Linked DNA regions of Homo sapiens: all the other regions are reported to be linked to region 1. Evidence: microRNA targets listed by miRTarBase, many of them from high-throughput screens and not tested one by one. Region 1 holds a microRNA gene; each other region holds the end of a gene's coding sequence.

Region 1 (5,394 bases):
GTGAGCCAAGATTGCATCATTGCACTCCAGCCTGGGCAACAAGAGCGAAACTCCGTCTCAAAAAAAAAAAAAAAAAAAAAAAGGTAAACTCAAGGCCGAGCACGGGGGCTCAAGCCTGTAATCCTAGCACTTTGGGACGCCAAGGTGGGCAGACCACTTGAGGCCAGGAGTTCAAGACCAGCCTGGACAACATGGGAAAACCCCCATCTCTACTCAAAGTACAAAAATTAGCCAAGCATGGTGGTGCACACTTGTAATCCCAGCTACTTGAAAGGCTGAGGCACAAGAACTGCCTGAACCCAGGAGGCAGAGGTTGCAGTGAGCCGAGATCGCACCACTGTACTCCAGTCTGGGCGACAGAGCGAGATTCTGCCTCAAAGGAAAACCAAACAAACTGCAAAAAACCAACCAACCAACCAATTACTTAAAGGTCAGAAGTATGATAAACAAGGACTGGGGCCCCAAACAGGGAGATCAGAGCAGGCTGGGAAAGTGGAACAGAATCTCAGAACCCCCAAGTCTCTGAGGCCCAGCAAATGGGTATCTTTCATTGATTTCACACATATTCACTGAGGCCTACAATGTATTAGGAGTGAATACAGAGCTAAATCACTCTTGATTTCTGCCATGAGGCACCCGGGCCAGGAGGAAGAGACCAAACTGGTACGTAAGAGGGGAGTGGTAAGTGGCCCCAAGGGGAAGTTCCTGGTCCTCCAGGAGCCCAGAGGAGGCATCCACTCTCATCTATGGGGCCCAGGGAAATCCGCCTGCACCAAGAGTCAATTGTTTTGGAAAACGGAGGGGGACTTCGGAGAGAAACTAAAGCTGAGGTTGTGTCCTGGAACAGACAGAAAGAGAAATCTGCAGTTGTGGGTCCCACACTTTCAGTTGACAGTTCCCTGTTCTCCCCAAATAACCACTATTCTTACTTCCATCATCTCGATTCCTTCATTCTGCCTGTTTCTGAACTTGACATAAATGGTGTGTTTTCTTGATTTTGGCTCCTCACTCAACATGGTATCTGTGAGAGTCACCTGTTGCTGCTTATAGCAGGCATTTGTTTCGTCACTGCTGAATAGTTTTCCACTGTTTGAATGAACTAAAATTTATCTACTCTACTGTGGACAGACATGGAGGTTGTTTCCATTTTTACGGCTACTATGAATAAAGCTACCATGAACATTCTTCTGACAGAAACAGCACTCATTTCTCCTGGATAGAGACCCAGGAGTGGAAGGGCTGTTTCACAGGCTGTTTGTATAACAAGCTTCACCAAATTCCACTCCAGATCCACTCCCGTTTTCAGAGTGATCAAACCCTAAATGTACAGCCCCACGTGCAATGGATGAGAGTTCCAGCTCTTCTATGTCTTCACCATTTGCACCACTGAGTCTTTTTTAATGTTGGCTGTTCTGGGAGGCGTGTAGTCATATGTCACTGAGATTTAATTTGCATTTTCCTGAAGGCTAATGATGCTGAACACCCTTGTCATATGCTTACTGGCTATTTGGAGATCCTTTTTCAAGTGCCTATTCAAGTCTTTTTCCCCATCTCTTTCTTGTCTTGCCTGATTTGTAGACAGGTATTGTGGATGAGTCCTTTCTCAGAAACATATATTAAAACATCTTCCTCCAGTCAGTGGCTTGCATTTTACTCTCAAAATGCTGTCTTTTGAGAAACAGCGTTACATTTTACAGAAGGTCAACTTACCCATCACTTCCTCTGGTTTGCTGTTTAACAAATCTGTGCCTACGCTAACTCAAGAAGATATTTTCCTACATTTTCTTCTAGGTCCTTTATTTTTAAAATCTTTCTGGTTCTGGTCTGTCATCTCAAATTAATTTGTTTATGCATTGAGGCGAGCCTTCTTTTATTCCTAAATGGATATCAAATTGACTCAGCTATGTTTTTTAAAAAACATACATTTCTCCACTGAACTGCAGAGATGCCTACTGTTAAACACATGTGGGACTGTTTCTGTACCCTTGATTCCATTCTATTGGGCGATTTAAATATGCTTGTGTTCACATCTATTTTAATTATTGTGGTGTCATAAGTCTTCGTCTCTGGTAGTGTAAATCAGACAACTTTGTTCATTAGAAGTGTCAATTTTCCACTAAAGAACCTGTTAAGATTATTGGGCTTATACTGAATCTAAAGATGAGTTCAGGGAACTGTCCCATCCGTGAATATTATGTAGGTCTGCTTTAATTTTTTTTGAGACAGTCTCGCTCTATCGCCCAGGCTGGAGTGCAGTGGCATGATCTCAGCTCACTGCAACCTCCACCTCCTGGATTCAAGCAATTCTCTTGCCTTCAGCCTCCCAAATAGCTAGGATTACAGGTGAGTGCTACCGCACCGGCTAATTTTTTGTATTTTTACTAGAGACGGGGTTTCGCCATGTTGGCCAGGCTGGTCGTGAACTCCTGACCTCAACTGATCCGCCCACCTTGGTCAGGTCTGCTTTAATTTCTCACATTAGTGTTTTACAGTTTACATTAGAGGTGTTACATACACATCTTTCATTGAATTTATTCCTGGCTATTTGATATTTTTGGTGCAATTATAAATTATACACATACTTACATATAAAACATAAGGTGATTTCATTTTCTAATGACTTGTTGCTAGTATACAGGACTGCCAACCCATCACCCCCTCTTTCTATTTCATGCTGTGATGTTCATTTTACAGTTGAGAAAACACACCTTGAGAAGGGAAGGGAGCCAAGGTCACACAGCAAGCAAGGAGCGCTGCCAGGCCTCTGACCCTGGGCTCTACCTTCAAAGGTCAAAGATTAAGGTGCCCACAAGAAGCCCCTGCCAGTGTGTGGGGGAGTATCCAGACCTCACCTGTTGTCCAGGATGGGCCCTATCTTCTGCAGAGACTTGGCCACATTGAAGCGGACATTGGCAACCGGGTCCCCAGCCATGCGCAGAACCGTGGGTAGCATGTGCTTGGTGGTGATGTCCTGCCCACAGACCTCAGACAGCACCTGGGGGCCAGTGAGTGGCAGGGGTGAGTATGCAAAGCTCCTGGCTAACTCTCATTTCCTGCTGCCTCTGACCAGGCCACTCTGGTGATCATCAGGCCCCACAGAGGCTGAGCAATACGGGTGACTCAGTTAGTGGAGTGAATCTCCCAACTCCACTAACACCATCCTAACACCATGTCCCAGTTTCTCTGTCCTCAGGCTTCCCTTAATTATTCTGGAGATCGACCTTAATTACCAAGCCCTAGGATCCCTCCTTAAAGCAATGCTCTCCAGAGAGTGGCGTGGGAAGAAATGATCAGAACACTTAGTTATATTTATTTTTAAATCCCTTCCTTTCTAGCCCTGTGTATGGTTTACACATAAATAAGTAGTACATGAGATAATTATAATCGTAGGAAAAGCAAATAGACAGGAGCACTTCCTACCTGTAGCATAACTGTTCTAAGCCCTGTGCGTGTATAACCTGATTAATCTTCACGCTCACCAGGCTGTGATTACCAGTATGAATTCTTTACAGTATGAATTATTTACAAATGAGAAGACCAAAGCATCGGTTAGGTAACTATCCAAGGTCCATAGCTAATATATGGCAGTACCAGAATTTAAAACTAGGTCTGACCTAGAGCCCATACACTCACCCAACGCACCACAGATAGAGACACACATTTCTCAGGGAAGGAGAGGGGTGCTCATAAAGCTTGAGATCGCTGCTCCAACAGGTCAAGTCTCCCAGGCCCTGGGTCCCTCACCATCCAAGTCCCCAGTCCCAGAGGCCCTATGACCCTGACCCTGGGAGCCCCACCCCCTTGCCTGCAGTTCCCCAAGGACTCATCTCTGGATAGAAGATGCACTCCATGTCTCCATTCCCAAGCCAGGTGTCTCCCTTGGGGAACCCTCTAGCATCCCTCCTCTCCCACGCGCTCCAGTTCCCTAGGGATGGGCCAGCAGGCAGGTGGAAGGCTCACATTGATGCAGAAGAGCGTAGTCATGCGGTGCAGGTAGTTGGGGTCTCCGGACATGGCCAAGACCTTGGGGATGATTGTGGCATGGGCCCACTCCTTCCCAAACTTTTCCACTAGCTTCTTCAGGTTGCTGGTGGCTGCCTCGCGGATGGCATATACTGCAGAAGGGTGAGGGTGAGAGAGACAGGGATTTGGAGGTGAAGAACTGATGTGGGCAAAATGTAGGTCACACTCACCATGGCTTACAAAGCAGCCCCTAGGTGCCAGGCTGCATGTGAGCCAAAGAGAGAAAAAAGGACTTACTATGTGCTATATCTAGTAACTGTTTTTTTTTATACAGTATCTTTTCAACCACTCCAAGAGGTAGGTTCCACTACTGGCTTCATTTTACAGATGGGCAAACTAAGGCTCTAAGAAGTGATTTGCCTAAATTATGTGGCACTTATTACTTCAAACAGGGCTTCACAGAGATAAATATTACCTTTTATTTTTTACCTCTCTTAGTGTAAACAATGAGCCATTCTCATAATGGCCCCAAGGCACCAGAATAAGAAGTTTCAAAGAATGAGTGTGGGGCTCATTCAAAGACAGCAGGTGACTTGTTTTAGATCTGACAGCCCCAAGGGCAGGATTCAAAACCCTGGTCTGGCTGCTCAGTGGCCCTCTGGCTCTCCACTATACCAGGCAACCCCTGGGTGATCTGTTTCGTCCTCCTCCCACTCAACACTTCTCTAGGACTCTAACAAGCATGCGAGCTGGTCCATACGAGCATCCAGCGGCGTGGGGAGTGACTCTAGCCTCCTCCACTGCCCGCCACAGCCCCAGCCAATCCATCCTGCCTTTCTGGAGCTCCCATCTCCTCTTGCTGCTCCTGTGAAGGTACTCACCATGATCCACAAGCCAGGCCATGCACAAGGAGTTAAGTTTCTCATCAAAGAACTCCACTCCCTACAGGAGAAACCAAGGGTTCCAAGGTAAGCGTTCCAGGAGAGCAAACAGGGGGAGCTGCTAGCCACATCCCATGGAACCTACACCCACCCTAGAAAGACCGGACACTTCTCAACTTTGTCTGAGGTGCTCCTTTCCCTCCTCTCTCTTATTGAATCCAATGCATCTTTTAAGGCCCTATTTCCTGGGTCCCTTCCTTCGACTCCCCAGGCAGTTGTCACAGCCTCCACTAAGCCTTCAAAGCCCCGTTTCCCCATCACAGCCCTGGACATACTGCACCTCCCCTGAGGCAGCACTGCCTGGCCCCCAGGCCTCCTCACTCACCAGCTGTCCAGCCAGGAGGGGCATGTACTCAATGATGGCCAGCCGCACCCGCCACTTGGCGTCCTCAGCCAGCTCCACAATGGCAGGGAGCAGGGACTGGGACAGCTGCCGGATGCCAATCACCTCGTTCACACAGTCCAGGTTAGAGATGATGTTCAGCCGTAC
Region 2 (5,394 bases), not on the chromosome of region 1:
TCTTTGACGTACTTATTTCTTTTCCTTTGGATATATAACCAGTAGTGGGACTACTGGATCATATGGTAGATATATTTTAATTTTTTGAGGAATCTTGACACTGTTGACCATAATGGATGTACTAATTTATATTCTCACCAACAGTGTATAAGTGCTCCCCTTTCTCCACATCCTCACTAGCATTTGTTATTTTTTTTTTTGTCTCTTTGATAATAGCCATTCTAACTGGGATGAGGTGATATCTCATTGTGTTTTTAAAAAGTTTGTTTTTATTTTTAAATTTTATGGATACATCATAGTATAGTTAACAATAATTTATTGTATATTTCATTGTGATTTTGATTTGCATTTCCCTAATGATTAGTGATACTGAGCATTTTTCCATAAGCTTGTTGACCATATAGATGTCTTCTTTTAAGAAATATCTATTTAGGTCTTTTCTCCATTTTTAAAATCATTTATTTGTTTTTTTGTTGTTATCGAGACATTTGAGTTTCTTATATATTCCACATATTAACCTCTTGACAGATGCATAGTTTGCAAATATTTTCTCCCATCCTGTAGGTTGTCTCTTTGCTCTGTTGATTGTTTCCTCTGCTGCGCAGATGCAATTTAGTTTTATGTAAATCCATTTGTCTATTTTTGCTTTTGTTGTCTATGCTTTTAAGGTCTTATCCAATTAATCTTTAGCCAGATCAATGTCATAAAGCATTTCCCCTATGGCTTTGTCTAGTATTTTCATAGTTTCAGGTCTTACAGTCAAGTTGTTAATTTCTTTTGAGCAGAGTTTTGTATGTGGTAAGAGATAGAGATCTAGTTATTCTTTTGCATACACATATTCAGTTTTTATAACATCATATATTGAAGAAACTGTGCTTTTCCCAATGTGTATTCTTCACACCTTTGTCAAAAATCAGTTGGCTATAGATACATGATTTATTTTTGGGTTGTCTATTCTGTTTCATTATCCATATGTCTGTATTTATGACCATGCTGTTTCAGTTACTATAGCTTTATAGTATGTTTTGAAGTCAGGTAGTGTGATGCCTCCTGTCATTTCCCAAGGTAACTGTGCATTGGGAAAAGGGAAATGATCTGATCTTTTGGGGACTACTGGACACTGGCTCTCAACTGATGTTGATTCCAGGAGACACGAAACATCACTGTTGCCCTCTAGTTAGAGTAGGCAATTATGGGGGTCATGTGATTAATGAAATTTTAGCTCAGATCCAACTTACGGTGTGTCCACTCGATCCCAAAACCCATCTTGTGGTTATTTCCTCAATTCTAACTGTGGTTATGTCCCCAGTGCAACTGTGGTTATTTCTCCAATTCTAATATGCATAATTAGAATAGGCATACTTAGCACCTGGTAGAATCCCCACATTTGTTTCCTGACTTGTGGAGTGGGGGGGTATTATGATGGGAAAGGCCAAATGGAAGCCATTAGAGCTGCCTCTACCTAGGGAAATAGTAAATGAAAAGTAGTGTTGTATCATTGGAGAAATTGCAGAGATTCGTGCCACCATCAAGGACTTAAAAGATGCAGGGGTGGTGATCCCCACCACATCCCTGCTTAACTTTCCTATTTGGCCTGTGCAGAAGATAGATGGATCCTGGAGAATGACAGTGGATTATCATAAGCTTCACCAAGCAGTGACTCCAATTGCAGCTGCTGTACCAGATGTGGTTTCACTGCTTGAGCAAATTAACATTTCCTGGTACCTGGTGTGTAGCTATTGATCTGGCAAATGACTTTTTCTCCATCCCTGTCTGTAATGCCCACCAGAAGCAGCTTGCTTTCAGCTGGCAGGGCCAGCAGTACACCTTAACTGTCATACCTCAGGAGTATATCAATTCTGCAGCCCCATGTCATAATCAAGTTCACAGAATTCTCGACCACTTGTCCTTCCACAAGATGCCACACTGGTCCATTATATTGATAACATTGTGCCAATTAGACCTAGTGAGTCTGAACTCATTGGTAGGACATTTGTGTGTCAAAAAGTACAAATAAATCTGGCTAAAATTCAAGGGACTTATACTTCCTCGTGAAATTTATAGGGTCCAGTGGTGTGAGACCTGTCCAGATAGCCCTTTTAAGGTGAAGGATAGGTGTCTGGCCCCTCTTACACCCAAGAGAGAGGCACTATGCCTGGTGCATCTATTTGGATTTTAGAGGAAACACATTCTGGGTGATCAGGGATTTGGAAGCAACATGATTGGAAAATTGATGACAAAGATACCTGGGGAAGAGCAATGTGAATAGACCTCTATGAATGGGCAAAGATATGAAGATATCTGTGTCCCATGTAAATACTCACCAAAGCATGACCTCAGAAGGGGAGGTTTTAATAAGTGGATAGGATGACCCGTTTTGTGGATACCAGTGAGTCTCTTTCCCCAGCCACCACTGTCATCGCCCAATGGGCTCATGAACAAAATGGCCATGGCGGCAGGGATGGAGGTTATGTATGGGTTCAGCAGCATGTACTCCCACTAACCAGGGCTGACCTGGCCACTGCCACCTTTGAGTGCCCAGTCTGCCAGCAGCAGAGACCAACGCTGAGCCCCCCAATGGCACCATTCCCAAGGGTGATTAGCCAATTACTTGGTGGTATGTTGATTACATTAGTCTGCTTCTGTCATAGAAGAAGTATGGATCCCGTCACCCAGGTAGTGAGCATAATACCTGACAGGTAGTTTTTAACTTACCTTCTCCCCACCTTCACCTTCTAGTAGTTTAATTTTTATGAAGTTCAACTTTAAAATTTTTCCTTTTATGGATCATGCTCTTTGCTTTTGATTTCAACTCTAAGAACTGTTTGCCTAGTATTTTATTTTTTACCTTTTTGTTACATGTTGACACCCATGAGAATACACACAGTCAAGAACAATGACTGGACTCCTAAACTCAGGCTTGGAGTAAAGTAGGTGGAATCAGGGTCTGCTCTTCCAAGGCCTAAGCAGTGGCAGCATAGCCATGTTTGGTGTTAGGGATCTATGGAGTATGATCCAATGAGAAGGAAATCATTACAAAGGAACACAAATTAGGGTGACCTCTTATTTATCACTGAAAACACCCGAGGCATTGGAATAATATAGATGTATCTTTAAAAGATCTGAAAGAAAAGCTTTGGACCTAGAATGCTGCATCCTATCAAATTATCAAATTGTCTACTAAAGTAAACGTGCCAAAATCGTGTTTTTAGATATGCATGCACTCAGAAAGTTTTTCTTCAACTGGTAATTTATGAAGTCTTTCACCATTGCATAGGTCATCTTGTTTATTAATAGTTTTCTATTCCATTGGCAATAAATGTTTATTTGAAGAAATTCAGACATTACAACTGTGTATAAAGATGAGGAAATATTCTCCCTCCATGTTTCCCCCTGCCCTTCCATTCTTACCCCAGTGGCTACACACATATGTACATTCATATTTATATAATGTTTTAATGTAATGGATTCATACTTTTACATTTGTTCCATATCTTAATTTTCTTACTTAATGGCTTTTCAAGGAAGCAGTAAAGATATATTTGATTCTTTGAACATGCTGCATATAGTTACACTTTATGGAATTAGTCATAGCATCTTTCTCCATTTCCCTATTGAAAAGGTTTTAGGTTGTTGCCATTTTTACCTATTATAAACTGGGATTTCCCTGAACATCTTTGGAGATTATATATACATATATCTCACAATATTCAATACACATTTACAATAATATTACTCAATACAAATTTATAATAATATTTCTATAGGCTAGAGTCCTAGAAATGACAGTTTCTAGACGAAGTATTAAATCACACATTTTAAACACATAGTTTATGGGAAGGTGAACCAGAAGAAATGTTTCAACCTCCCCTGTGTGAAATGGATAATTTCCATGTTATCCCTTGTGGTTTTTGTTCTTTCTGACCATTAGCATTTTTAAATTGTATGATAAAATATAAGAGGAAATTAAAAGTAAATAAAACTACAGCAGTATAATAAAGGAAGGATAGAAAGATAAAAAAGTAAAAGCTTAAGATTTAAGCAATAAAACATTTTTAGAAGGAGAAAAATAAAAAATTATAAAAATTCTCAAGAAGAGAAAATTAGCTAAAATATATATCCTCCTCTTCCTTCATTCTTTCTCTTTTCAATTTTTTTGCAAAAACATTCAATGGCTACAAATTACACATTTTTCAGCAATATATTGAAATGTGAAGAATTTTGGAGGATCTGCCTTAATAAAAGGAGAGAAATTTGTTTAGGAAATATTCATGGGGAAAGGATTAGATTAAAGCAGTTTTTGGAAAATGAGAAAGTGGAAAAAATAAATCTTTCCAAGAAAGAGGAGACACAGACAGGAAACGATTGTGATTTAAGAGATACAGGCCGAATTGTTGGGTCATCATCAATGGATGTAAGTGCCCACAATAGCCTTGTCTCACATGGGTCAGAAGTGCTAGCTTCCAACAGCTTTGACTGTTCACCAGAAACCAGTAGAAAACACGTCCAAGTTGAGCAGATTCCACTTACGAGTTTTTCAAGAGGGTGCTTCCTAGGATCTCTTGCTCATAAGCTTCCTCAGGCCCTGTTTCAGGTCTTTGTTTCTCAGGCTGTAGATAAAAGGATTGAGCATGGATGACAAAACTGTGTAAACAATTGTTGCCACGTGGTCCTTGACAGCGTAGGTGGATGGGGGCTGTAAATAGACACAGAAGATGCTTCCATAAAAGAGCGTCACCACGGTGAGGTAAAAACCACAGGTGGAGAAGGCTTTGCGTTTCCCAGAAGTAGAGGGAATCTTGAGAACTGTAGTGAGGATTCGTATATAAGAGAAAGCAATGCAGAGAAAACGAGTCACCAAAACAATAGGTGCTTCTGTCATCTGCACAATTTCATTGACAAATATGGAAGAGCAGGACAATTTCAGCACAGGGCTGAGGTCACAGAGAAAGTGGTGGATAACATTGGAGTCACAGAAGGTGAGACGATTCAGCAGAAGTGTGTGCAGGAGTGAGTGGAGGTGAGGAAATGAGCAGGAGAAGGCCACCAGCAGGACACAGTGGTGGTGGCTCATGGTGGTGACATAGTGGAAAGGGTCACAGACGGCCACATAGCGGTCAAAGGCCATGACTGCCAGAAGGCAGCTGTCACTGTTGCCCAAGGCATAGAGAAAATACATCTGTGTCAGACACCCAGCATAGGAGATGGTCTTCTTTTCTGACAGGAAGTTCATCAGCATCTTGGGGACAACGCTTGTTGTAAAGCAAATATCAGTGAGAGACAGAAAACTCAAGAAGAAATACATAGGGGTCTGAAGATGGGGGTTGAAGCGAATGGCCAGGATGATGAGCAGGTTCCCTGTTATGGTGACCAGGTACACGATGAGGAAGAGAA
Region 3 (5,394 bases), not on the chromosome of region 1:
TGGGAGGCGGAGGTTGCAGTAAGCCGAGATCGCGCCATTGCACTCCAGCCTGGGCAACAAGAGTGAAACTCTGTCTCAAAAAAAAAAAAAAAAAAAGTGATTAAGGTACAATAGGTACAATAGATCATTAGGTGGACTCTAATCCTTGATGAATGCTGTCCTTATAAAAATGGGACTTTTGAACATAGAGAGATGCAGAGGGGATATGATGTGAGGCCCCAGGGAGAAGATGACCATATACAGCCACGGAGGGGCCGGAAGGAACCAACTGAACAGATGGAGTCCACGTCCTTGATGTTGAACTTCAGCCTCTAGAACTGTGAGAAAGAAGATTTCTGTGTCTAGGGGCCTGTCTGTGGGGCAGGGTGGTGGCGGTCCACGCGGAGAGGGTGGGAGGCACTGGCAGGACGGGGCAGTGGTGGCAACAGAGATTGGTTTCTGCGGGGATGGGGGGAGAGAAGGAATGAAGGACGGCGGGAAGCAGGTTTCTCACTGCTGGAGAAGGGAATTAGACATAGGGGAAGGGCGGAAAAGAGAAGGAATCTGTGGTAGAGCTGGAGTTACTGGGCGAGCTCATGATTTGTCTACACGTGGAGACAGAAACGGCAATGCACACGGATCTGAGCGTGTCGGCTGAGAAGGCGCGGGAGCAGGGGGCCCCAGCAACGGCACACCGGGGCTCTGTAAAGAGAGGGAGGGGACCGGGCTCACTTTTGCCCACCCAAAGCTCCCGTAGCTGAGCTCCCAGCTTGTCTCACCAAATCCTCCCCACAACCCTGTGAATCGGGACGTTTAAGAAGATCTGAGGCTTCCAGAGATGAAATCCCTTGTGTAGTCCCACAGCAGAGCCCGGCGGTGAAGCCAGACCCTCGGACTCCAGCTCCCAGCCCCATCACCATTGTTACTCAGCCCCACCAGTCAGAGGGCGTGTGCGCGTGTGTGTGTGCACGCGCGCGCCTGTGAGCTCGCGCGGGGCAGGAGCGGGCAGGAGCCGGCAGCACCCGCCCCTTTCTCCCGGTGTCTGTACCCGGGAGGGGCTGATTTGGCCGCGGTGGACTCCACCCTAGTGCCCCGGCAAGCCCTGTACATGCAGTGCTACTGCCATCTCGTGGTCGCCTTGAAACACTGACCCTGAGCAGGGGCCGTAGACCGTGCTCAGGACTCAGAACTGGGCCTACCTCCAGCCACCTTGGAGCGGGCAAAGGCTTCCTAAAGCGCCTACCGAGAGCCCGCAGAGCCCAATCCAGGAACGCCAGGGGGACCCTGCCGTGTTGCCAGGATCAAGACAGCCCTGACCCTCTTAGGGTTAGCAGCCCAGACCAGGAGGAAAGACAGACACAGTCCTTTGGTTCTCTCCCAGTGGGGAGTAGGGACAGACGTTATTCTGGAGCTGGGAAGGCAATACCAGAGGCAGAGCAGGGGTCCCTAGAATTACTGAGGAGTCTGAGGGGCAGGGCTCTGAGCCAGGTGTCTGGAGCAGAGGCCATTCTGGAAGGGAGCAGGGAACCATCCGTGACAATAACAACATGTACAGAGCATTGTCTACATGGCAGGTGCTGAGTTACTTGTTGGCTCAGTCAACCCTAACAACCCTATGAGGCAACGAGTGTTATCTGCCCATTTTACCAGTGAGAAAACAGAAGCACAGAAAGGTTAAGTAATTTGCCTAAGGTCACACAGCCCAGAAGTGGCCGGTCTGGGAGGTGGGTACTGACACTAGGGCAGGAGGTGGAGGGGTCGGTGTCCAGGCCCAGGGTGGGATCGTGGTGGCCCAGGGGAGCCAGGAGGGAGAGGGCTTGGTGGAGGCTCTGCAAAAGGCTTCCTCAAAGGCAGGCCTGGGGCTGCCCCCCAGGCGCCCTTTCCCCTGCCCACCAGCCCCTCCCAGCTCCACTCAACCCCTCCCCTCCATGCCCCCGGCCCAGCGCCTTCCGATGTAGCTGGGCCCAGCGGGAGCGGCGGCACCTCGTTAATCCTGCCCTGTGGTGCCAGGTGGAGGCCCTGCTCCTACCCAAGGCTCCCACCAGACAGCTGGCCCTCATTTTCTTGGGGCCAAGACTTCCTGCAGCTGTAAAGTGATCCCGCCCAGGCCTGCAGCCTCAGACAGAGCCTGCTGCCAGGGAACCCAGCCTGACTGCACTGATGAATTCCCGCCAGCGCCCCCCCCCCCAGCCCCCATGCAGCCCCAGCAGCCTTCTCTCTGAAGGAGGCCTTCAGGCAGCCTGGAACTGTTCCAGCCAGCCAAGCCGAGACCTCTGCAGGGGCCACCTCCTGCCTGGCATTCAAGGCCCTTCATGGCCCAGCCCACCCCATCTTACCTCAGCAGCCTTAGGCCGTCCTCACAGAGAGCCTCCTGGCCCTGGGCGTCCCGTCCCATCTTCTTCTTTTCACAGCGTGAAACAATGATTGAGTTTATGTCTGTCTTTCTCGTCCCTTTCCCTCCCACGTGACCCCACAGGGCTGGCACCTGGCCGCTTCACTTCTGTCTGGCGGGCACCTAGCGCTATGCTGTGTGCAGCTGGCTCCCAGGGGATGCACCCACAGGGAGGAATGAACAACCTGGCAGTTTTCACCCTTAGCACCTGAGGCCCTCCCAGCCCTGGGGGCCTTCTGTGGAAGTTTCCTTGGGTTTCCCAGCTAACACAGGGGAGAGGAGGCCTTGGCTTTGATCCTTGTAAAATCACAACTCCCCTCTAAGAGGTCCCCAGTTAAGTAGGGAGAGAATGAGGGAAGCAGGCAGTGGGGTGTGGGTGGGGCAGGCAGGTGAGGCAGCAGTGAGGAAGGTTGGGGGTCCCAGTCTTCCATTACTTAGTGTATGACCAGGCAAGTCCCTTCCTCCCTCAGCCTCAGTTTCCCCATTTGTAACTGGTGGCCAACACCATTGACCCCCTGGGGCTGTTGTGAGGTACTGAAAGGGCTGGGCCAGGGTAGGGCACCTGGCAGGAGCTCACAGATGCCCTGGATGTGGCAGAGGGAGCTTGGCCTGGACCATGAGCATCCTGATGGCGGCAGGGCCTCCCCCTCCCCTGCCTGGCACCAGTGTGCCTGCCCCCAGCTGCTTTCCTTGCCCCAACTCCATCTTGAGGGCTGGGCTGGGCCTGGTCTCCTGTATGCCCAGCTCCAGACCATACCTCAGATGGCAGGTGCTGCCTGCCCACTGCCCATGGGAATCAGTGGCTGCTCACACAGACCTCGGCCCTCTCCCAGGAGCCCAGGACCCTGTGGACCCAATTGCTTTGGCCTCACACCGTTCCCCGACCGTGTCCTGGGCCAGGAGGCTCCAACATGCCTCAGCAGTGACTCCCAGGGAGTCTGGCCTAGAGATCCCACACCTGAAAAGGTGGCACCCTAAGACCTGGGGCTCTTGAGCTGCCATGGAGGGAAGAGCTGACCCCCTGCACCTGACCTGGGGCCCAGCGTCTGGAACTGTGTGCCATGTCTTCCCAACTTAGCTTTGGTGCCTGGAAAATGGGGAGGATGCGCTTCTGCATGAGGAAATGCTGGCACATGACAACTGCATGAGCTTCCTCCTCTGAGCTGGGCGGCTCATGGAGTCCTAGTCTCCGCATCTATACATCGAGGACGCTCACTTTGCTTCTCCCAGGCTGTTGTGATGCTACGAGCCAGTGCGTAGCCCCAGGCTGTGCCTGGCACCCAGCCTCGGAAGGCCAGCATCCTCCTGTGGCCTGTGCACCCCACATGCGCACACAGTCCACACAGGTCCCCGCCCTTGTGATTAGTGTGCTCTGTGCAGGGCAGGAGCTGGCCTCATGGAACAGCAGCACGAAGGTGCCTTGAGGAGGGAGGGGTGTCAGCTGGGGAGGGCATGCATCCTCCGGGCAGGGGCGGTGGCTGGAGCCTGCCATGTGAGGTGGGAGGAGGCGGCACCTGCGTAGTGTAGCTGGGTGTTTGCTCCTGTCCTTCCGCCTGCACCATCTACAGATGCTCACCTCTCGGATGGCCCCCAGCCCTGCCCAAAGTAGTCGCTGCCTCTGTGAGGCCAAGAAGTCATTTCTGACCAGGAGACTTGACAATGCTGCTAGCAGGGTGGTTTTCTACCTTTAATTGGGGATACAAAAGGCACCTCTCCCAGTACAAGAGGATCAACCAAGAGGTGAGCCCCAGTGCTGTGGTGCCCGGCCAGAAGGAACAGAGGAAGGATGGAGGGCAAGGCAGCGGAGGGGCAGTGGGGCCCCAGCATCCCCTGAAGCCTCACCTGCAGCCTGGGGCTGATGAGATCTCGCCCACTGCGCGCAGAGTTGCAGCTTCGTACCTGGGCCGCCGCAGCTCCTCAGGGGGCCTCCACACCTCCACACCCTACCCTCAGTGGCCAGCCAAAGCCATGGGGCCCCATGCAGCAGAGCAGGGAAGGGACAAGAGGCTCGGCAGAATTTCCACTGTGGCCAGCCTCCAGCCAGGCCTCGACTGGCAGTGTGGGCTCTGAAGGGCTCCTTGGGGCATGGGCCCGGAGCAGGGTATCACTCAGTGAAGGAGAGTCACACTGGGTCAAGCAGCCAGCCAGCCAGCCAGCCTGTCCTGGGGCCTCCACTTCTCAGCAAAGTCTCATGGTCAGCTGGGGTGGGAAAGGAGGCAGAGCAGCCAGATCCCACTGCAGCGCAGACCTGTCCCCCAGTTCATCCCACTGCCTCCACACCCCCAGCCACAGCTGGGGCAGCTCCGTCTTCAAAGAGGAGGAAAAGGGGGTAACAAGCCACCCCCAAAGCAGCCTTAACACCAGAGGAGGGAGGGAGGTCCCAGCCTAAGGGTGTGAGAGCAGTGGGGACCTGGGCTGCAGGGTGCCAGACCCCACACTCATAAGGCAAACAGCATGTCATCATCTTTCTCCTGGGTCTTCTTCCGGGGCGCTGGGCCAGATGGGGGACCCGGGGGCCCCTCAGCTGAGGGGCTGGAGAGGTTGGGCAATCGGTCCGCGGCTTTGGCCCGTTCTTCCAGGAATTTGTCAAATTCTAGAGGAAGGGGAGAGGGTGAGGGTAGGCCCTGAGGCCAGAGCCCTGGGGAAAGGAGAGGGCGGGCAGGGGCGGGGACTACTACCTTCGCTGGTGACCCCCTTAGGCTCTTCCGCATCATTACCCTGGGAAGGTAGAAGGAAAGGAGGCAGAGGTTAGCCGGGCCCCCAGTACGGTCAGCCTGGGGCAGTGGTGCTGCAGCTCGGGCCCCGCTGAACCTCAGCACTGGGTCCCAGCTCAGGCTCTGCACGCCCCCACCACCCAGGTCCCAGGACCTGGACCTGGGCTCCTCCCTGAGCCGTAGGACCTTCCTTGGGTGGCACCTGACTTCCTGAGCCTTGTGTTTTCCTTCTGTAAAATGGGGGCGGGGTGGGGGCTGAAGCTAACTTGGAGGGTTGCTGGGAAGCTGAAATGGGATAACACACAGCAC
Region 4 (5,394 bases), not on the chromosome of region 1:
ACCCGGCTCTGCCTGTGTCGGTGGCTGTGCCTCCGTGCCCCGCTTGCCGGGGTCCGCAGTCTATCTCCCGCTCTCGCCCGAGGCGGGCTGTGAGGCCGCGGCCCGGGCCCTGGCCTGCAGCGCCATCTCGTGGACCTGTGAGGAGTTGCCGAGGCCCGAGGCCTGGGCGGGCTCTGGGTTCGCTCCCACTCGTGCTCCCGGCGGGGAGCTGCGGGAGCTGCCAAGAGGACTCGCTGGGAAACCAGGCGCGGCCGTCAGCGCTGGAAATCGGTGCTTCCGGAGTGGGTTTGGGGTCCCCGGCCCCATCCAATAGGAGGAACAGATATGCGCCTCCGGAGAGCCCAAAAGGAAGTCCAAGTGCAAAACCGCCCCGGGCGTGCTCGGACACGTTCAGCGCCCGGCAACCAGCCTCCACCCCGAAGGCGCTCCCGGGAGGGTGCCCAGGAGACCCGGAGCTCGGGCTTCCTCCCAAGAGGGCGGGGGCTCCCTCCGCTGCCGCCCTGTCCTGCGAGCAGGGAGCGCTCGGCCTCCTGCGGGATCCCGCCTGACCGCCGGTGCTCCGCACCTCGGGGCCAAGGACAGCGAAGGAGGGGGAGGAAGCGGGACTGGATTTTGGGTCCTTCCCAGAGCGGAGGAAGGCAGGCTCGGGGTATAAATCCAGGGCTCGTAGAGGCTGTCCCTCAAGGGGCCGTCCCATAACCGGGAAATAGGGGGTCCCGGCCTCAAGCCGGGGCGCTTGAGCGTGAGAGTCCCGGGGAGAGCGAGGCTGAGCGCGCCCCTCCCGCCCCAGGAGCACCCCACGCAGGAGTTCGCGGTCAGCTGGGGAGGCGGGCCCGGGAGCTGCGGCCTTCGGGAGGGCAGGGCCAGGCCATACCGGTGGCTCCGGTTCTCCACAGCAGCGGCGGGGGAGTGGAGGAGGAAGGGCTTGAGGGCTCGGAAGATTCCGATTAACCCGAGAGGAAATGAGGTCCCCTGGGCCTTGGGATCCGGGCGGCTTAGCCGCTAGGGGTCTCTCGGAGCCCCTGCACTCACACCCTCCATCTCCGAGTTCCTCCGGGAATCGCACGCGCCACCCCACACCGACACGCACAATTCCCTCTTAGACCTCACACGCCCCACACGCGAGAGCCCGAGGCGACAGGCTAGGCCGCCAGCAGGTATCGCCATCGTCCCAGCACTGGCCCTCCTGCCACGCGTGTGCCGGCGGCTCTGCCGTCCAAGGACCCCGGGCCAGGCCCTGAAGGGTTAAGGAGGCCTTGCGGCACCGGAGCGGCGGGTACGCCGGGCGCCTAGGCTAATTGGCGACCCCGGGGACAATGAGGGCTGGGAGGCCGGGGAGGAGGGTGGCTTAATTGGACATGGGAGTGGCCTAGCCTTTGTCTGGGACAAGGCCCAGCCGCCGGCCGCGGGTTCCCGCAGTCGCACTCAGGCTACCAGCTGGGGCCCCGCGGAGCGCCGGGTGGGCGACTCGGAGGGGACATGTGCGGCGGGAGGTGGCGGCGAAAGTGGTGTGGGGGATCTCGAGGCCCTGGAGTCCCACCCCACCCCACCCGGGTTGCTGCAGCAACGACGCGGCCTAAAAACGGCCGCGACTAGGCCGCCCCGCCCGGCCTTCGCAGGCACCCGCCTCCCCCGCGCCCATGCCCGCACCCGCACCCCTCCCGCGACCCTAAGTCGGTGCTGCCCCCTGGTGTCCGCAGCCCTGTACGTAGGCCGCCGCGGGCGCGCAGCCGACTCTCGTCTCCCTCCTAATGTCCTGCTGAAAGTGAGAAGCCGCGGGACGCAAACGCGCCGCTCCTCTAGGAGTATGAGAGGCGTTTCAGCCCAAAGCGACCTCCAGCAAACGCGCTGCCCACGAGCTTCTATTTAGGCTGGAAAACGGGCTTCTCTGTCCCTGTCGGGTTCCCGGACCTGCCCGCAGGTCTGAGGCAGGGAAGCCAGAACCCACCCTCTGGGGTTGGGATACGTTCTACTGCAACCTCCCACTCGTGCACTGGCTGAGTCCCCTCCCTGCTCCAGCCGCATTCGGCGTGGCCTGGGGGCAGCACCATCCTGAAGAGGCGGGCCTGGTTCTCTCTCTCTCGCTCCTTGCAAATGTATCGGCCCACAAAGGCGTCCTGGGAGTCTGGGGGCCCAACTGTCCATTCCACCTTCACCATCACCGTTCCTCCATCTCAACGTCCCTGGTGTTTTGGAAGCCAGCACCCTCCCCAAGCCCCACCCTGTGCAGTGCCCAAGGTGGGCAGCCTGTTGGGGCAGGGCGTTCAGGGTCCCCAAGGCTTAAAGAGGAGAGAACTGGGAAGGAGGTGGCGTGCTCGGTGACCGACCAGACCCAGGGCTAAAGGAGTGCCCGCCCAGCTCCCACTGCTAGAAGTGGGGGCTGGAGACACCTGCTAGCTGGGCAAGGAGGGGGAGCTCACCGGCGCGGGGTGGGAGGCAGCTGTCCTTGCAGGAGTGGGTCTCGGGGAAGGACCAGCCTAATGGAGACTGACACAGCTGGACCCCGGAGAGACCCCAGCCAAGCCCATTATTATACAGGGGAAACTGAGGCAGGAATGGAAATAGCCCACTGACCCCACTCTCCACTCTCCCAAGAGGGATTTAGATAGATGAGTTAAAGTAAGACCTTTTAGTCCAGATTTTGCCACTCTAGCCAACAGCCCTGACGCGGAGGAAATGTTTGTCTTTGAGGTTCAGGAGGCAGAGAGAGGGGAAAGAATTCTAGGCTCAGCGATATTTGGCGGGGAGTACGGGGGTGGGACACAGCCAAACCCCTCCTCCGAAGGGAGAGGTTGGACAAGGAACACCCATCCTCCCAGCCCACCCACCCAGAAGCATTGAAAGGAGATGGGTTTCCAGTGTGGTTTCCCGGAAAGGGAGTCAGAAGCCAGGAGTCCAGGCCGCTCGGCTGCTCTCCTCCCGGCCCGGGTGGGTGCCCAGGCCCGTTGCGCGGAGCTGCGGGAGCGGCCGGCAGGGGGAGTCCAGCCCCGGCCTGGGACGCACCCCGCGTCCCGCGCCGGCGCCGCCCGGCCTCGCGGCTCCGCCAGCGCCCCAGCCGCCCTGCCGCCGTGCCGCCCTGCCGTCCCCGGGGTGCAGCTGCCGCCGGGCGAGGGGCGCGCAGCCTTTTGTCCCCGCCTCTCGTCCCTCCTTGCGCGCGTGCAGCGCCCCAGCCCCGCGCGACCCACAGAGCGCACAGCGCCGTTCACTTCGCTTTCTAGCGTTTTATTGTTTTCTTGCGTTTTTGTCGTTTCGTTCTCGCTCCGGAGCGAAAAGTGAAAACCTGAGGTGGAGCCCGCGGGCCGGGCGAGCCAAACCCGGGCGGAGGGGCCGAGGGGCCGAGGGGTCGAGGGGCCGGCGGGGTGGTGGCTCCTCCAGGGCTCTGGGCCTTCTCCCGCAGCCAAGGGCCCCCCCAGCCCTGTACAATATAGATGCTCACGTAAAATGAAAAAAACTTTAAATGTATGAGTTAATCTCTAAATATATGTACACAGCAATGTACACCTTTGAATAAATTAATACCAATTTGCATATTCTGGGAACCTTAAAGCTTATTTACACAAATTACCATTTATTTCATAAATATCTTTTTTTTTTTTCCCCTGGGGACTCAAGGCAGAAGTGCCACTCCCTCCGTTGACCACGGCTGGGAGGGGTGCCTGTCTCTTCAGGGAAGAGGTGGGGAGACTAACAGGTTCCCTCCCAGCTCAGGTCTACACTGACTTCAGTCGTAACTGGTTCCAGCATCCCTCAACCCAGTTTTATCACGCGGTCTAGGCCCAAGGTCCAGGGCTCTGGGACTCCCTCCGATGCTCCCACCCCTGGCCCCTGCACCTTCTGGCTTCTGCAGGGACCGCTGGGCCCTGGATGAGGCCTCTCCCACCTCGCTGGAAGACCAGAGACACCTTCGGATGCCACCTTGACGCTGGAGCGGATCTGGACCTAGCCCAGCAGCTCCCAAGTGACTGTGTTTCCAGCAGCCTGATCCTTGTTGAGGCCCAGGGAAGTGTCCCAGGCCCCGACTTGCCAGACGAGGCTCTATTCCGGCTGCTGCAGCCCACTTTTCTCCTTTATTTAAATAAATACTCATTCTGTGCTGTACACGTCCCAAGCAGCAGGGGCAGGCAGCCCGGGTGGCCTGCGTGGCAGGGGAGCAGCTGGGCAGCCCCTCACTTGGGCGACTCCCGGCCTGGGGAGAGGGCTCGCTGGCTCTCCAGCCCACTCACCAGTCTCTGGATGCTCTGCAGTTCATTGGCCGCCTCCTTGGCCGAGCCACTGGGCGACAGGGCACCGCGGGATGGGGCCCCTACTTTGCGGAGAGCCAGCTCGGGCAGGGGGCTAGGCTCCCGGCTGTTTCCACCAGCGGCCTTGGAGCCCTCAGAGGCCAGCCCGGTGGTGAGGAGGCTAGTGCTAGGCGGGATGGTGACCGGGATCTGATAGGGGCTGAAACGCAGTCGGGGCCGGGCACTGCCCAGGAAGGGGCTCCGGGAGAGGGAGCCGGCGGCTGCGGCGGCGGCAGCTGCAGCACTAGTGGCGGGCAAAGCCGAGGCGGCTGCGGCTGCTGCTGCCATGTAGGTGTAGGGGTAGGGGAAGAGGCCTCCGAAAGTGGGCATTGGAATTCCCTGGAAGAAACAGAACAAGACGAGGGTTAGACATCTTGCCTGAAGTCTTTCTGAAGTTGGGCTGGGTGCTATCCCCTGGACACCGTGCCCTTCTGTTTTAGGGATGTAAAACCACAATTCGCATAACTATAACCACAGGCAGCACAGGTAAGCATGAGCCAGTGTGCCTGTGGCCAAACCCAGTTAGAAGGGTGAGATCGCTTCAGGCTACCATGCAAAGGCCTGCCATCAAGTTCTGTGCTGGGCATTACAGCAGGGGTAATGGAAAGGACATTCCAGGTGACTGCCCTAGCACGGGTGAAGGCCTTGAGGGAGAAAACGGGGCAGGCATAGGGCCAGGTGGCAAACAGGCAGCTTTGGGTGTCTTGGAGGTTCTGCTCATTGAGAACAGTGTCCTCGCCACCCCTCCTATCTGCAGGCTCTGAAGGGCAGAGGGCACACATGCTGGGGAAGGCACTTTGCAAAGTCTCCTTCTGCCTGCTCATGGTTCTCCTGCCTGGGCCAGGAGGAGGACACGGGTGCCAACCAGTTCATAAACTGGCCTGAAAGTTCTACAGGGAATGCCTGGCAGCACCTCACTGGCAGCTGAGGAAGGAATGCAGTCTTTGCCTGTGAAGGGCACAGCAGCCAGGAACTCCTGGACAAGCACCTTCCTGAGTTCATGAGGTCTGGCTGGTGCACGGCCTGACCTTTGAGATAATGGCTTACTCCCCAGAGCTAGTGGGTATGGGGAGGAGGGCAGGGGGCTGATGATTGCACTGGGCTCCCAGGGAGC

The links. The annotated mature microRNA hsa-miR-6801-3p reads ACCCCUGCCACUCACUGGCC and lies in region 1 at 3,001-3,020, opposite strand. An mRNA with a match to its seed (bases 2 to 7 or 8) in the 3' UTR can be bound and repressed. Matches are read on the target gene's strand: a 7mer-m8 pairs with bases 2 to 8, a 7mer-A1 pairs with bases 2 to 7 and ends in A, and an 8mer does both.
Region 2: miRTarBase lists OR1L8 as a target of hsa-miR-6801-3p. The part of its 3' UTR that is shown has no 7-base or 8-base seed match.
Region 3: miRTarBase lists TOM1 as a target of hsa-miR-6801-3p. Seed matches in the 3' UTR shown: 7mer-A1 at 4,198-4,204.
Region 4: the mRNA of TBX2 is a reported target of hsa-miR-6801-3p. Seed matches in the 3' UTR shown: 7mer-m8 at 3,823-3,829 and 7mer-A1 at 3,596-3,602.

Annotation. Positions count from the first base shown.
Region 1 is chr19:52,219,700-52,225,093 of GRCh38, reverse strand. MIR6801 (microRNA 6801) reads right to left here and starts at 3,074; the gene lies at 2,996-3,074. PPP2R1A (protein phosphatase 2 scaffold subunit Aalpha) reads right to left here. Exons shown (of 15, transcript NM_014225.6): 10 at 5,230-5,394; 11 at 4,845-4,905; 12 at 3,961-4,115; 13 at 2,853-2,995. RefSeq lists an enhancer at 2,335-3,534.
Region 2 is chr9:122,562,996-122,568,389 of GRCh38, forward strand. It overlaps OR1L8 (olfactory receptor family 1 subfamily L member 8), which reads right to left. Exons shown (of 5, transcript NM_001004454.2): 5 at 4,122-5,394. The coding sequence ends at 4,553. It also overlaps a transcript of OR1J2 not described here. Among named protein-coding and RNA genes, the nearest start is that of OR1N2, 13 kb to the left of the region's middle.
Region 3 is chr22:35,346,625-35,352,018 of GRCh38, reverse strand. It overlaps TOM1 (target of myb1 membrane trafficking protein), which reads right to left. Exons shown (of 15, transcript NM_005488.3): 14 at 5,050-5,089; 15 at 4,046-4,964. The coding sequence ends at 4,810. Among named protein-coding and RNA genes, the nearest start is that of MIR6069, 13 kb to the right of the region's middle. RefSeq lists enhancers at 852-971, 538-1,046, 1,637-2,169, 2,170-2,702 and a silencer at 1,072-1,191.
Region 4 is chr17:61,407,279-61,412,672 of GRCh38, reverse strand. It overlaps TBX2 (T-box transcription factor 2), which reads right to left. Exons shown (of 7, transcript NM_005994.4): 7 at 3,207-4,619. The coding sequence ends at 4,167. LINC02875 (long intergenic non-protein coding RNA 2875) reads right to left here and starts at 922. Exons shown (of 1, transcript NR_160788.1): 1 at 1-922. RefSeq lists silencers at 1-55, 1,576-1,745, 2,906-3,055, 3,066-3,115, 3,126-3,185 and an enhancer at 1,625-2,207.